2 linked regions of the Homo sapiens genome follow. The protein of the gene in region 1 interacts with the protein of each later gene in a biochemical or structural test. Each region holds a gene or a part of one and is shown in the gene's direction. Other genes may lie near its edges.

What was found.
Region 2: the proteins of REV1 (region 1) and POLI form a complex in vitro, tested with the Homo sapiens proteins (one study listed by BioGRID).

Annotation. Positions count from the first base shown.
Region 1 is NC_000002.12:99,437,793-99,445,360, reverse strand, and holds part of REV1 (DNA repair protein REV1), read left to right. Parts: intron 1-2,891; coding exon 2,892-3,044; intron 3,045-6,050; coding exon 6,051-6,760; intron 6,761-7,568. UniProt on the Homo sapiens protein: Deoxycytidyl transferase involved in DNA repair. Transfers a dCMP residue from dCTP to the 3'-end of a DNA primer in a template-dependent reaction.
Region 2 is NC_000018.10:54,264,843-54,273,031, forward strand, and holds the start of POLI (DNA polymerase iota isoform a (long)), read left to right. Parts: upstream 1-4,674; 5' UTR 4,675-4,704; coding exon 4,705-4,819; exon of another isoform or gene 4,820-5,190; intron 5,191-6,517; coding exon 6,518-6,643; intron 6,644-6,662; exon of another isoform or gene 6,663-7,400; intron 7,401-8,189. UniProt on the Homo sapiens protein: Error-prone DNA polymerase specifically involved in DNA repair. Plays an important role in translesion synthesis, where the normal high-fidelity DNA polymerases cannot proceed and DNA synthesis stalls. Favors Hoogsteen base-pairing in the active site.

The DNA of each region.
Region 1 (7,568 bases):
TCATGCCAGCTCAATGGGATCTACTAGTAGGACTTTCAGTTTATCTTTTCTTTCTAAACTCCCAAACCATATACGTTTGTCATGTGCTTACATATGAGTCAAAACTTTGGTTTCTAATTACATTCAGTGTTTAAATATTAGAGTGCTTATGCAACTCATTTAAATAAAAGTTGATTGCAATTTTATCTCTCATGAGTTTTTTTTGCCATTCCTTGTGTTTTTTTTTTTTGTTCCTAAACGCAGAGGCTGTAGGACAAAGCAAGAGTAAGACTTCCCAAAATAGATGAATATTTCACTTGCTATGACTATGTTTTGATTCGTTGTATAGAATGTAAACTCTTTCATGTATATATCAGAATATAGTTTCAATGTACATGAAAAAACTCAGTGTATAAGGAAACCGTGTAGTATTATCTTTTGGATAAAGATGGATTTTTTTATTATCCTCTCCTTTTGGTTTTGAAAGAATAGTAGAAAATGTCAGTACAGTTCCTTTGCGCTTAGAACAAGAGGGGAAATAGTAAATGTGAGAAATTAATCCCAGAGAGATTTTTAAAAAGGTCTTATACAAATATGCTTTCAGATAATGTTTCTGTCTATATATCTATAGATAGATAAATGGGCAAGCAGGGGTAGTTAGGAGTATACAACTGATAGATAGTGGTTTAGGCTTCAAATTATAACTGACATTACTTCACTAACATTACTGTAGTGCATTGGGCTTTAATTCTTTTTATTGAGTATCTCTGAGGATATCTGATTTGAGACTTGCAGTATTTAAATTGGCTGTCTAATTTTGTAGCAGTCTCCATGGACTGACTTATGTAAGCCTAAGAATTCTGTGGGTGGCCACATGGCTCTTGTTAGGAGCTGGATAAGGCCTGACACCCTTGTATATGATCAGTGCTGACCATAGAGAGTACCTGTAGAGTCTGCATCACTCCAGCATGCTGTCAGTAGGGCAGGAAAAGCGAGAATGATCATAGGGCGTTTTGTTCCTTGCACTTTTGGTTTTACCTGAGATGTGCAGCTGGCACAGTGGGTGTAGTTTCACTCTCTACTTGTCTCTTAGTTATAGCTATCTATGATAAAGGATGGAAAGCTAAGGTTAGGATTTTATTTCAGGTATTAAGTAGCTGTACTTCTTTTGGTGGGGGAAGCAAGTGAGTTTGATATACATAATACCACAGAACAAAGATTTATAGTTAGGCAATTGAGACCAACTATTAAAGGAAGAAAAGGGCTGGGCGCGGTGGCTCACACCTGTAATCCCAGCACTTTGGGAGGCAGAGGCGGGTGGATCACGAGGTCAGGAGATCGAGACCATCCTGGCTAACACGGTGAAACCCCGTCTCTACTAAAAAAATACAAAAAATTAGCCGGGCGTGGTGGCAGGCGCCTGTAGTCCCAGCTACTCGGGAAGCTGAGGCAGGAGAATGGCGTGAAGCCGAGATCGCGCCACTGCACTCCAGCCTGGGCGACAGAGCGAGACTCCGTCTCAAAAAAAAAAAAGGAAGAAAAGTTGGTTTGAGGAAGAATAAAGTAAAAAATAGTCGAATTTTAGGGTTTCGATTCTAATATTTGAATGTAACCTGAAATTTTGAATGTATTTTGAATGTAACCTGAATTTTGGTAAAACATTTAGCCTGGTCATAAATCCATTTGGTTACATGTCTTGCGACTAGTATAGTATGTTCTTTACCATCATAATTTAATAGTTATAGCATTTGATATAGGTTAAGGTACTTTAGGTAGAATTGTTAAATATATATTGACATAATTATATAAAGGACATACTCTGTATCATATATAGTTCCGTTTTTAGAATCTGTTAGTATGTTTTCCTGTATTCCAAGTTGTTGACTCAGTTATTTTTAATTAGTATTCTGTAAGCCAATTCAGTCATTTCTTAAATGATTATTTTTTAAAAAGTTTTGTGTGACACCATTTAAGAAAATGAAAATGTCAAGTCTTGGATTTATGAGACAATAAGAAACATATTTTTATCATGTTATTTATCAGTCTTTTTCTAAATAACTGAGGGATGATTCCTTGGTATATATTTTAGGTTTAAAATCCAGAGGTTGTTTTGAAATATTTTCTAATATTAAAGTAGCTTGTTTTGAAATTTGGATGATAGCATAAGTATATTGATTGGTTATTTTTAAATTTGAAGTGAAATGATAATTTTAAAGGTAGAGTAGCCATATATAACTCAGTTTATTAGCAAGAAAATGTCAGTTTTAGATACTGCAATCAAATTAGTTTTAGTTCTGAAGTACAAAAGGAAGCAGACATTTGGGAACTTCAGTTACAGTGCTAGTACCACCTAGCGTTAGAACACTGGTGTTCCCCTGGATTTGAGTGGTGTTGTGTGATATGCTGTGAGGATGTACATGGTAGTTTTGGCCCTTGTAGAGTTCATATCTTCAAATGGCCTTGGCTCTTAACCATTCTTGTATACATAAAAATAGTATAAATTATTACTCTTGAAGTTGAGATTCTTTATTTTGTCCTATATTTTTATTTTACAGTTTCTGACATGAATTTGGAAATTGAGCATCCTTATTCAGTTTATTTATCTTGGAAAACCTTAATAGATGAGATTTTGATGAAGTCTTGATGATTCTCTGTTAACTGTTGACAGGGTGGTAAATACTAAAGTCATGAGGTTTAAAATATTGACTAGTTCAGCTCTGTGCTTGCAGTTTTTCCCCACTCTAAGATCATATTGTATTAGGACCACTAAAACCGAGCAAGAAGGAATAAACTAGGAAAACAGATGACCTGTTGTTGGTGAAATACTGTATCTTTAAGGACATTGAATATTTTTCATGAAGCTCATTGTCACCAAGTATGGAACTCTAAATTGGTGTTGCTTTTTGTTTCAGCATCAAAGCTGGACGACTCCTCTCCTACATTCCATATCAGCTGTACACCAAGCAGTCCAGTGTGCAGAAAGGTCTCAGCTTTAATCCTGTATGCAGACCTGAGGATCCTCTGCCAGGTCCAAGCAATATAGCCAAACAGCTCAACAACAGGGTGTAAGTTTGTCTAGTTGGGGATTACTGCAAAGCTGGTTGGTTTTTTTTTTTTTTTTTTTTTTTTGAGATGGAGTTTTGCTCTTGTTGCCGAGGCTGGAGTGCAATGGTATGATCTCGGCTCATTGCAACCTCTGCCTCCCAGGTTCAAGTGATTCTCCTGCCTCAGCCTCCCGAGTAGCTAGGCTTACAGGCGTGTGCCACCACGCCTGGCTAATTTTTGTATTTTTAGTAGAGACGGGGTTTCACCATCTTGGCCAGGCTGGTCTCGAACTCCTGGCCTTGTGATCTACCTTCCTTGGCCTCCCAAAGTGCTGGGGTTACAGGCATGAGCCACCACGCCTGGCCACAAAGCTGGTTTTTAGCAGTGAGCATGGCCCCTGCTCTGTTACAGTCAGACAGAAGCAGATACAAACCCTGGCCATTCACTTATAATAAACATGTTGAAATATGTGTGTATGAGTGTCTTATCTAAAAATGAATTATTTTTATAATGATAATTTCATAAATGTAAGTAAGTTTTTACAGTCATACTGGTTTCTCACCTTAAACTAGTGGATCTTAATTGTTAATAAGTTTTTTCATGGATTTTTATGAAAGTAATTATTTCCTCACAAGTAATTTGCTGTATTGCTTTCTCAAAAATGGAACTAACTGCACCAGCTATATTTTTGTTGTGTTCCATGCATAGAAAGACAATGAAAATGTTAATATTTCTGGGTTATTTTTGAAAAATTCAAAATTCATAACATTCTAAATATGTAAATATATAAATGGAAGTTTAGTTGGTGACCCTTGGTTATAGAATTGAAAGTGAATCTAGACTATTCCATGTGGCTGCTTTTTTTTTTTAATTTAAGCTTTTAATTGCAACCCTGGATAAATTGTTTCACAATTAATTGGTGGGTTGCCTTACCTTGTATATCAGGTGGTTCATTATGGTTAGCCTTCTCTTTATTTATTAAATTGCTTGCTTTGGGAGTTGGATATATTTTTTTTCGAAAACACCAGGAGTCTAATTAATCTGAGAGGATCCAGTATCACTGCCTTCTGTAATTTTTGTTGTCATTTGTTAATTTAACTTGTACTCACAAGCATATTCAAATATTTTTCATGTTACCTGTAGCTTTTAATTTTTTTTAATGTGCTATCAAGGTATATAGCAAATAATACCAGAAAACCTTTTCACAGAATACGTAGCTTTAGCTTTCTTTTCTTACCCACATTAATAAAAGTAGAAAATAGATATGTTTTTTCAAAATCTTCTTTGTGACACTTTAGGAAGAAATTACCTTTTAGATTTTACTTCTTAATACATTTATGCCATTGCCTAAAAAATGTATCTCTACCCGTGATATTTCCAGTACAGCTACTTTGCAAATGTCCATTTGTCTAGGCTGAGAAACTATAGTACAGCAAGAATGTATGTTAACAATGTATTTTCCTGCCAATATATGGCTTTCTGTTGCATGTGTTGCTATAATGCATGTAAAGGGTCTGAATGTTTTTGACACAAAACTAGATGTAAGACTTTCTGACGTACATCACTTTTGTTGTTTTCTGGGGTTTTTTTGGGGGGTATATTCAGTACATTTTGTACATTTCTTTGAAATGCTCATCTGTGACTTCTTGCTCCCTTGCATTCTGTTTATCTCAAGAGGCTGAACTTTCTCTGCATGTGACAAATTAGGTTTTCTTTTTTTCTTCTTTTAATCATATCTACTTTGTCTTTTTCCCCATCACTGGCATGATCATCTGTGAGCATGGCATCTACTCACAGTTGCCTGTCACATTCCATATGATGTTTAGCCAGAGCCTGAGCTAACCCAGAAATGGGTGATCATCCAGCTTGTGGGACTTTTCTGTGTAGTCAGGCTCTCATTACTAATAAACCAAGTTGGTATTAGGGTGAGGGGCTTTAGGTGGAACCTGATAATACTGTGGTAATTTCACCTGTGGCTTACTACTCTGTAGGGCAGCCCTTCATCTGGAGCCTGCGCTGTAATTGAATTAATGCTATGGACATTTGGACATTCCTAAGTAGAATGAATTACTGCTTTGTAATTCAGGTTTTTGTTTTTGTTACTTAGATGATTCTCGTGAATGCATTTCTAAACAAACGTCTAGAGGAGCCAGGATGTGACTTTAGCATAACATTTGTCATGGGTTCTGCATTTATAAAGCTGTCATCAGGAAACTTGGTCCAGATTGCCTTGTACCACCCTGGCATCTAAATATGCATTTCTTAGAAATGAAGTGCAATTTCCCTTCTCAGTAAGGCAAGCGTCCTTATTTTTCTAGGTGTAAATTTTACTGAATTACCCCCACACATTGACATGGCTTTACTTTTTGTCTATTTGTGCAACAGTTAGCTCATTAATAGGTTAATCAATATAGTCAGTTTTTTTCCTACTGAAACCATCTGGTTTCGTATTAGATTTAATGTGTTGAATAGTACCTTTCATAAAAACTAAAACTAGGAATAAGAATTCAAGTAAGGTTTTTAAATCCATTTTTATGAAAGTTATTTGTAGTATATTAATTCAGCAGATATTTATTGACCATGTAGTAAATGCCAAGCACTGTGCTTCAGAACTGGGTATTTACAGCTTATAGATTCCAATTAATTTTTTATGGGAAAAATAACTGAAAAGTTTTTTGGGTTTTTCTTCAGCCATGAGAAATGTTCTATTTTATTTCTTCTTTGGGACTATCTGAAGTGAAAATAAAAAACAAACAAAAAACACCTAAAGGGCTGTTAATATTCTAGAATTTTTCTAGTTATCTTGCTACTTTTGCAAAGAATGATCTTTTGTCAAATCAGAATATAAAGTTTGTGGTTTAAGTTTCAGGGTTTTTTTTTTTCATTGTCAATATTCAATATAAGAATTTTCTGTTTTTAAAGGGGGAAATACCAAACTGTGTACCACTAAGAAAATGATGAAATGAAAAAATTGTTTTAACCTAAAAGTCAGATATTATTAACTCAAAAATTTTTTCCTGCTTTAGAAATCACATCGTTAAGAAGATTGAAACGGAAAATGAAGTCAAAGTCAATGGCATGAACAGTTGGAATGAAGAAGATGAAAATAATGATTTTAGTTTTGTGGATCTGGAGCAGACCTCTCCGGGAAGGAAACAGAATGGAATTCCGCATCCCAGAGGGAGCACTGCCATTTTTAATGGACACACTCCTAGCTCTAATGGTGCCTTAAAGACACAGGATTGCTTGGTGCCCATGGTCAACAGTGTTGCCAGCAGGCTTTCTCCAGCCTTTTCCCAGGAGGAGGATAAGGCTGAGAAGAGCAGCACTGATTTCAGAGACTGCACTCTGCAGCAGTTGCAGCAAAGCACCAGAAACACAGATGCTTTGCGGAATCCACACAGAACTAATTCTTTCTCATTATCACCTTTGCACAGTAACACTAAAATCAATGGTGCTCACCACTCCACTGTTCAGGGGCCTTCAAGCACAAAAAGCACTTCTTCAGTATCTACGTTTAGCAAGGCAGCACCTTCAGTGCCATCCAAACCTTCAGACTGCAATTTTATTTCAAACTTCTATTCTCATTCAAGACTGCATCACATATCAATGTGGAAGTGTGAATTGACTGAGTTTGTCAATACCCTACAAAGACAAAGTAATGGTATCTTTCCAGGAAGGGAAAAGTTAAAAAAAATGAAAACAGGCAGGTCTGCACTTGTTGTAACTGACACAGGTAGATACTTATTAAAATTGTCTTCTTAAGAAACAGTCATGCTTGATCATTTTGCTCTTATGCTATTATTGGTATTTCTGGTCAATATGAAGTTCTCATAAAAGTCTCTAAGTATGTCAAATCATGTAAGTTACAGTAAGCATAACATAGAAAGCTAATTTATTAAAATATTTTTAAAACAATTAGATATAATTGTGGCTGACTGAAAATTTTCAGAGAATTTAAACAGTAAGATGGTTGGGATTCTGAGCATTCATTCCTCACGTAGACCTTATCAGTTGGTGAAGTTTTGAACTGTGTTAATATAACATCTATCCAGTGCTTAAACTCCTGTAAGAATGAAATTGGTTTGATAAGAGTAATTGTTAATTTCTAGAAGCTTGCATCATAATGATTTTTTAATTTTGACATAGAGCTGTTGTAATTAACAGTGGTAAACTTTCAGTGAGATTATTTCACATCTTAAGTACATTGGTTCATTGTATTTTGTTTTTTAATACTTTTCTTGTCATCAAAAACAAATGCACACACAGTAGCATACTGTTTTTCTGGGCCAGTCATTATAAATTAGTATCTGGTTTGAAATTTTAGTTCCTTTTACAGATTATAGGATTTTTTTATGGGGAGAGACCTCAGAGATTAATACTCTATAATTTATAGCTGTGGAAACTGAGGTATAGAGAGAAGCTCATGGTTCTGTCCTAGAAAGTGATAGAGACTCTATGTGGGGTGTTTTCTGTTATGTTTTACTGAGTTTGATGTATTCCTATGTGCTTTTAGTCAAAAAATGCTTTTTGGTATTTATGAA
Region 2 (8,189 bases), on another chromosome or scaffold:
TTTAGTATCAGAATGTAAATTCCCACAGTGAGAAGCAACTAAATAATACTTATTTTCATCTTTTATACCCTTTTTTCTTTTCTTTTCTTTTCTTTTGTGTGTGTGTGTGTTTCTTTTTTTTTTTGAGACAGAGTCTCACTCTGTTGCCCAGGCTGGAGTGCAGTGGTACAATCACAGCTCACTGCAGCCTCAACCTCCCAGGCTCAAGCATTCCTCCCACCTCAGCCTCCCTAGTAGTTGGGATTACAGCCATGTCCCACCAGGCCTGGTTAATTTTTTTTTTTATTACTTTTTTTTAGAGACGAAGTCTCACTATGCTGGTCTGAAACTCCTGGGCTCAAGCCATTCTCCTGCCTTGGCCTCACAAAGTGTTGGGATTACAGGCATGAGCCACCAAACCTGGTCCTATCTATAATTAAAAGCACGTAACTGAAGACCAATTCTTCATTACAACTGGAGACCCTAATCTGAAGAGGCTAGTTGGGAGCAAGGTGGTGTAGACACTACTGGTATCCCAACCACGGACCAATTGACACTTTGGGATGAATAATTCTTTGTCATAAAGGTTTGTCTTTGCACTGCAGGATGTTCAGCAATATCCCTGGCCCCTACCCATTAGATGCCAGTAGCACAGAGCTCCAACACAGAGATGTGACCACCTAAAATATCTCCAGACACTGCCAAATATTCACTAGGGAACAAAATCAGCTTGCTTGAGAACGATTGCGTTAGGCCAAAGACCTCACAAAATCAAATCCTCTGTGCCTTTGCCAATTCAAATTGCTCCTTTAACTCCATGGTCAACTCTACCCACTTAGCCACCCACCAACATAAAATACAGACACAAACACCCTCACATTCTTCATATGAAATACCTTGAACATTGTCTAGTGTTCTTCCTCTGAGCCATATGTGGCCAATTTGGCTAAGAGGAGAGAAGTAACCACTGATGCCTATTTCCTACCCTCCACTGACATGGGAGTTCATGCTTATCCTTTTAAATGTATTTAAGTTCATAATGTGCTGACTTTCTTTCTTTGTTTCTTTTTGGAGATGGAGTCTCGCTCTGTTGCCCAGGCTGGAGTGCAGTGGCATAATCATACATGACTGAAGCTTCAAACTCCTGGCTTCAAGCAATCCTCCTGCCTCAGCCTCCTGAGTAGCTGGGATTACAGATGTGAGCCACCGTGTTGGCATGTCTTGACTTCTGAAGCTCTAAAATGCCTCCAGCTTCTTTATCCACTAGCCACGCTCTGTAAATCCATGCTCCTCCATAAATTTTGTTTGACCATAATATTATTTAATTAACTATGTCTATTCTGCCTTGAAATTGTTTTCTTCATTTGGCACTTAAATATACAGTTATGACCCAAGCTCAAGACAGCTATTTCCTGAAGTTATTCTAGATTAGATCCTATTAATTAAAACTGGGAGTAGGGATTTTTAGAATCAAACCCCAAAATCCTTTTTTCCTAAAACATTCCAAAACAATGAGACACGTTAGCTTATATAAATTTTATTTTCGTGCCTCTTAATACCTTTGAGGGATGTTTATTCTCCCCACTACCAGCCGTCTGGTGTTTGAAGCAGTGAGGAAAATGGTCAGAGCTAATTGATTTCCTATATGGAGAAAACATTATTAATGAATTCTTCACTGTGGAAAATTCTGAAAAGTGGATCTGCCATTACTAGATTCATAGCCTTGAGCAAGCATGTTAATCTCTCCTAGGCTATTTCATCTTTGGTAAAATGAGGATGCTGACATCTACCCTCTAGGGCTATTATATTGAATGAAATGACCTGTTTCAAGCTTTTAGCCCTGTGCTTGATATACAGGTGTTTTATGAGTGTCCTTTTTAGTGCTGCTTCTCTTCTTTATTTCCAGCACTTGCTAAATACTTTCTGGGGTCCAGGGCAAAATGAAAATATGGGGCTTCCTTGTTAAAAAATTAAGAATTTCAAGACAAGAGCAGAATATGAAATCAAGTGTTGAGCCCTATGTGACTGCCTACGTCACATACTCATCAAGCCAGCCCTGCTTGCTCCCCTAGGATTTCCAAGGGTCTACTTTTCTATCCTTTCACGAAATTAAAAGCCACTCTTCAAATTAAACAACGGATGGGGAAATAAATGCAACTAACTAAAGAGGGCTTGATTACGTGCATTGTTTTTTAACACTGTCTCACTTAAGCAACATGTTGAATGTTAGTGAGCCTAGGGCTCTTCTAGAGAGACCGTTTTCATCTGCCATAGTATTTTAGTGTTTATATCATTTTCTATCTGGAAGAATGAAAAGAAAAACAAACTTTGGTTGTCTATTAGTAATCAGACCACTGAATGTTGTCCAAGAAGCACTTAGTGGACAAAGAGACACTCAATTCAAAAGCTCTCTATGTAGGCTGGGTCGCGGTGGCTCATGCCTGTAGTCCTAACACTTTGGGAGGCCAAGGCGGGCGGATCACTTGAGGTCAGGAGTTGGAAACCAGCCTGGCCAACATGGTGAAACCCTGTCTCTACTGAAAATACAAAAATTAGCTGGGTATGGTGGCACACGCCTGTAATCACAGCTACTCAGGTGGCTGAGGCAGGAGAATTGTTTGAACCCAGGAGGCAGAGGTTGCAGTGAGCCCAGATCGCACCACTGCACTCCAACCTGGGAGACAGACTGAGACTCTGTCTCAAAATAAATAAATAAATAACTAAATAAAATGAAAAACCACCAAACAACTATCTAGACTTATCAAACAGCTTTCACAAAGATAGCAGCCTAGCTCTCTGAACAGGTAATTTATAACCTAGATAGCAGACTTTGAAAGAACTGGTCCAGACATCTAAGAATTAAATATGCAAAGAGGAAGATTTTGTTTCCAAACCACTGAGACCCAGCTCTGCTTGTTATTCCCTTTTCTTCATGGATGCATCAACATATCCTTTAAAGCAGGGGTCCCCAGTCCCCAGGCCATGGACCAGAACCAGTCCCTGGCCTGTTAAGAACCATGCCGCATAGCAGGAGGTGAGTAGCGGGCCCGGGAGTGCAGCTTCATCTGTATTCACAGCCACTCTCCACTACTGGCATGACTGCCTGAGCACTGCTTCTTGTCAGATCAGCAGCGGCATTAGATTCTCACAGGAGCCTGAACGCTACTGTGAACTCGCATGCGAGGGATCTAGGTTGCATGCTTCTTATGAGAATCTAATGCCTGATGATCTATCACTATCTCCCATCACCCCAGATGGGACAGTCTAGTTGCAGGAAAACACGCTCAGGGCTCCCACTGATTCTACCTCATTATCTATTAAAATGTAATAATAATAGAAATAAAGTGCACAACAAATGTAACGCACTTGGATCATCCCAAAACCATCCCCCTCCCTTCTGTCTGTGGAAAAATTGTCTTCCATGAAACCAGCCCCTGGTGCCAAAAAGGTTGGGAATGGCTGCTTTAAAGGGTTTCTCAAGGTTCTAATATTTTATTTGATAAGAAGTAGAATCATATAAAAAACCAAACATATGTGTTAATTTGGGTATTTATACAGATATAGTGTATATACATACATACAGGCATGGAGGAATTTCCAAATTTCCTCTATTGTAAAACATACACATACACACACCAACACACACATGCACACATGGTATCCTAATAGAAGGCAAGGAGAATAGACATTTACTGAGCACTTCCTATGTGCCACATGTTTTATATACATTAGGATATTACAGTATATGGTAGCTTTTATCCATTCATTCAATCTCAATACTTTTTTTTTTTTTTAAGAGTAGAGCAACTGAGGCTCACAGCAGTTATGTAACCTGCCCAAAGTCACACAGCATGATGGAGGGTCTGGATTGGAGATTTTGTCTGACTACAACACTCATGTATCAAATCCTATTCAGTTTTGATGTTAAAAATTCTGTGGTTGAATTCGTCACAGTGTCTTTAAATAAAACAACAACAAACAAAACACAGCAAACCTTAACATAGTTGCTAATCATATGAGTTTACAAGGCCACCTGTGTCTTTACTATCAGTTACACTCCTTCCCACCCCATCACATTAATCACTCAGGTCTAGGGATTTGCAAGTTTGCTAACAGCCGAATGGAACAAAGACAAAACGCTAAAATTTGTGATGTGGGCCTAACTCCAAAGCCTTCAAGAAAAAAAAAAAAAGGCCAGGCGCAGTGGCTCATGCCTGTGATCTCAACACTTTGGGAGGCCTAGGAGGGTGGATCACCTGAGGACAGGAGTTCGAAACCAGCCTGACCAACATGGTGAAACCTCGTCTCTACTAAATACAAAAAAATTAGCTGGGCGTGATGGCGCATGCCTGTTAATCCCAGCTACTTGGGAGGCTGAGGCAGGAGAATCGCTTGAATCCGGGAGGCAGAGGTTGCAGTGAGCCGGTATTGCGTCACTGTTGCCCACTCCAGCCTGAGCAACAAGAACGAAACTCCGTCTCAAAAAAAAAAAAAATAGCCATTTGTGCTTTCAATCTCTCCGCTTCCGGCCTCCACCCGGCGGGAAAAAACTCCCGCACGTGGGCCTCCACGATTCCTTGGCATGCGTGTCACTCTGGGCAACAGGCTGGTCGGCCACGACTGCGCAGGCGAGAGGCACAGAGCGACTGGAGACTGTAGTCCCCCGGTTTCCCTGGAGACCAGGCGGAAGCGGCCGGAAGTAGCGCTGCGGTTGGCAGCGGCGGGATGGAGAAGCTGGGGGTGGAGCCGGAGGAGGAAGGCGGCGGCGACGACGACGAGGAAGACGCCGAGGCCTGGGCCATGGAACTGGCGGACGTGGGGGCGGCAGCCAGCTCGCAGGGTGCGCCGCAGCCAGAGGAGCCAGCGGCCTCCTTGGGTGTAAATGAGAAGGGTGGGGCAGGCGGACGCTCGGGGCGGCGGCCACTGGGGCGCGACCGTCCCCGCCCCACTCGGCTCCTCTAAGAGAGGGCTGCCTCCCTCTGCCTTGTGTTACGCGGCGGGTACCTCTAGAGGAATGGCTTCACCCAGCAGGAGTAGGGTGGGGCGCGTCCACACTACAAATACGTGTCGAGGGTTTATCTGCGCCGTCCTTTCCTCTGTGAGGGGCGAGGTGGGGCGGGAATCCCTCAGCCAGCCCGACGAAAACTGCAGAGGCTTCTGGGCCTTTTAACTTTGGAGAAGTTGAGGACCTTGTCGCTCATTTGGCAGAAGGTGGGACCCGGATCTCAGTCCTGGCAGGAAGGGATGGCTCAGAACCTAGGCGGAGTCAGGTCCGCTGTGGTCACGTCTCCGGTGACCCACTTCCAGCTCTGGTCTTTACCTTGTACCGCCCACCTCAGGGCCTGGATGTAAAGGCACCGGTTCTCATTTCCTGCTGGTTTTGTTTCATTCATTAATTTAGAGACAAGGTCTCCCTGCAGCCTCGAACCCCTGGGCTCAAGTGATCCTCCGCCCCAGCCTCTCCGTCCCGAGTAGCTGGGACAGCAGGCACGTGCCACCACACCTGGCTGATTTTCAGATTTTTTTAGATCAGGTGTAGCTGTGTTGTCCAGGCTGGTCTCAAACTCCAGCCACAAGCGATCCTTCCACCTCAGCTTCGAAAAGTATTGGGATTACAGTAGTTAGCCATCGTGCCTGGCCTTTTAAATTTTGGAACTTTAGGTTTACCTGAAAGTTGCAGAGCTAGATCCCCCTAGTGTTAACATAAACTCAGTACATTTGTCAAAACTAGGAAATTAACATTGGTATAATACTATTAATTGAACTACACGCTTTATTAATATTCTACCAGTTTTTCTGCTAACGTTCATTTTCTGTTCCAGGATCCCAACCAGAATATTGTATTGTATTTTGCCTGTCTTGTTTTTAGCCAGTGTTGAGAGAAGGAGTCGCCTCTGTCATTCCCTCCCCGACAAATAATGACCTAACAACTTTTTAAAATCAAAGAACTATTCAGTCTTTCAATTTAGTGAATATTTATTGGTGGTCTGTTATGTCCTAGACACTGTTTTAGGCACTGGCGATTTAGCATTAAACCAGATAATCCTGCTGCCATGGGAGCTAAAAATAGCCCACACTTGTACCCACTGGTTGTCTTTTGCCATTTTGTATTTCAGTTTTTGTTGGTTTGTTTGTTTTAAATGTAAGGGCATGCTGCTTAGAATAATTTTCAAGCTGTGTGAAAATCAACGTCATTTCAACTTTTCTGCCCCTTCTGGTTTACACTAAGAGCTACTATAAACTTCCAGGTGATAGTATTAGCTCTTTCATCATCCATTATTTATCACATTTTTTCCCTTCAAACTTATTACTATCCTGAGAAAAACGCAGTGCACAAACAGTAATTAAGAGGACTGAAGACCCTACCCTAAGTGGAGTTTCATGTCTTTGTAATTTTTCGATGCTTTCACACATAATCCAGGAGAAAACACGTCACTCTGCATTCTTCCTTCACAGGTACCATGTTTTAAGGAACTGTCAGTTGCTCAGAGATAATAAGCAGCCTGAATTTCTTTTTATTTCTTTGCATATTGTGCAGGAGTTCATGATCAAGTGTTGCCCACACCAAATGCTTCATCCAGAGTCATAGTACATGTGGATCTGGATTGCTTTTATGCACAAGTAGAAATGATCTCAAATCCAGAGCTAAAAGACAAACCTTTAGGTAACTGTAGATTTATAATATTTTTAATTGCATAATGATTAGATTAGCAACTCATCATGCTCATTATATACTGATTTATTAACCTTATTAAGAAAGATTTTGGAAGCAGTTCTTACAGTGCTTTATAGCTGGTCATTTTTGCTTCACTACCAAGTGTAAATTTTACAAGCCTCATTTAATAAGTGGTGAATCTGAGAATAGTGTAGTCGGCAGAACAAATGAAGAGAAAGCAGAATAAATGTTACTTTTCTGTGCTGGTTAGTAGCTTAGTTTGCTGGTCAGATTTCTTTTTCTCACTATTTGAAATTTTACAGGCTTTGTTCTCAAAAACAGCCTCTTATTACATTTTAGTGGAAGTGTTCGTCTGTCCTCCCCTTTCTGAAATTATCTCTTAAATTGTGTAACATCTAACTAACTAGTTGGATTTTGAACATAAACCTAAGTATTATTAAGACAGCAAACTTGCCGTAAAAACATAAGCATCTTTTTAAATAAAAGCCAAAATAAATTTTATATTGGATATTTGTTGATATGCTAGCTTGTTTTATCATTTTTATTATTCATATTTTAAATTGAGAAAGATAAAGAGATTTTCTTTCATGCATGCAGGAAAGATTCCTCTTTTAGTGTAAGCATAAAGAACATTTTTGGTTCACTTGCTGCTACCCTCTTGTGCCCACTTTGGCTTAATAAATCCCAATCCAGCCTAGCTGATTTACTGAAGAACAAAGGGATGACTAGTTTTTGCTACGCCAAGGTGAGTCTAGGATCTTAAAACTTTTCTAAGGGTGCCAAGGAGTTAGAATCAGGGGACCTAAGTTTTTTCTCCTGAAGGCATTTCTGAGTAGTAGCACTGTGTTATAAGATGTTCTGTAGATAATGCTTAATAAAAAAACTGTAATTAAGTACGAATGAATGATTATTGGGAAGTGAGGGATATGAATGCTCCATGTTTTTGGGGGAAAACGAAAGTAGTCTTTCATTTTGTTTTTGTTGTTGTTGTTGAGAAGGGGTCTCACTCTGTAGCCCAAGCTGCAGTGCAGTGGTGCGATCTTGGCTTACTGCAAGCTTTGCCTCTGGGGCTCAGGTGATTCTCCTGCCTCAGCCTTCCAAGTAGCTGGGACTAGAGGTGTGCGCCACCATACTCGGTTAATTTTTTTGTATTTTTAGTAGAGACGGTTTCACCATGTTGCCCTGGGTGGTCTCGTATGCTTGAATTCAGGCGATCCACCTGCCTTGGCCTCCCAAAGTGCGGGGACTACAGACGTGAGCCACCGTGCCCGACCAGTAGTGACATGCAGTGATGAGGCCATATAATGTAATGCTCTATTAAAGGACTCCTTTTTTTAGTTAAGAAATCTAGCAATCTGATTTTTTATGTAGTTCACTGAGGAATCTCAAATTATTATTACCTTTGGTTCCATGATTATATTTTTGGGCATTACCTGATATATGAAAAAACTTTATATAAAAATAATGTTGTTTATGATATCAAAATTTTAGAAACAATGTCTAATAGAGAAGTGGACATAACCTTTTTTTTCTA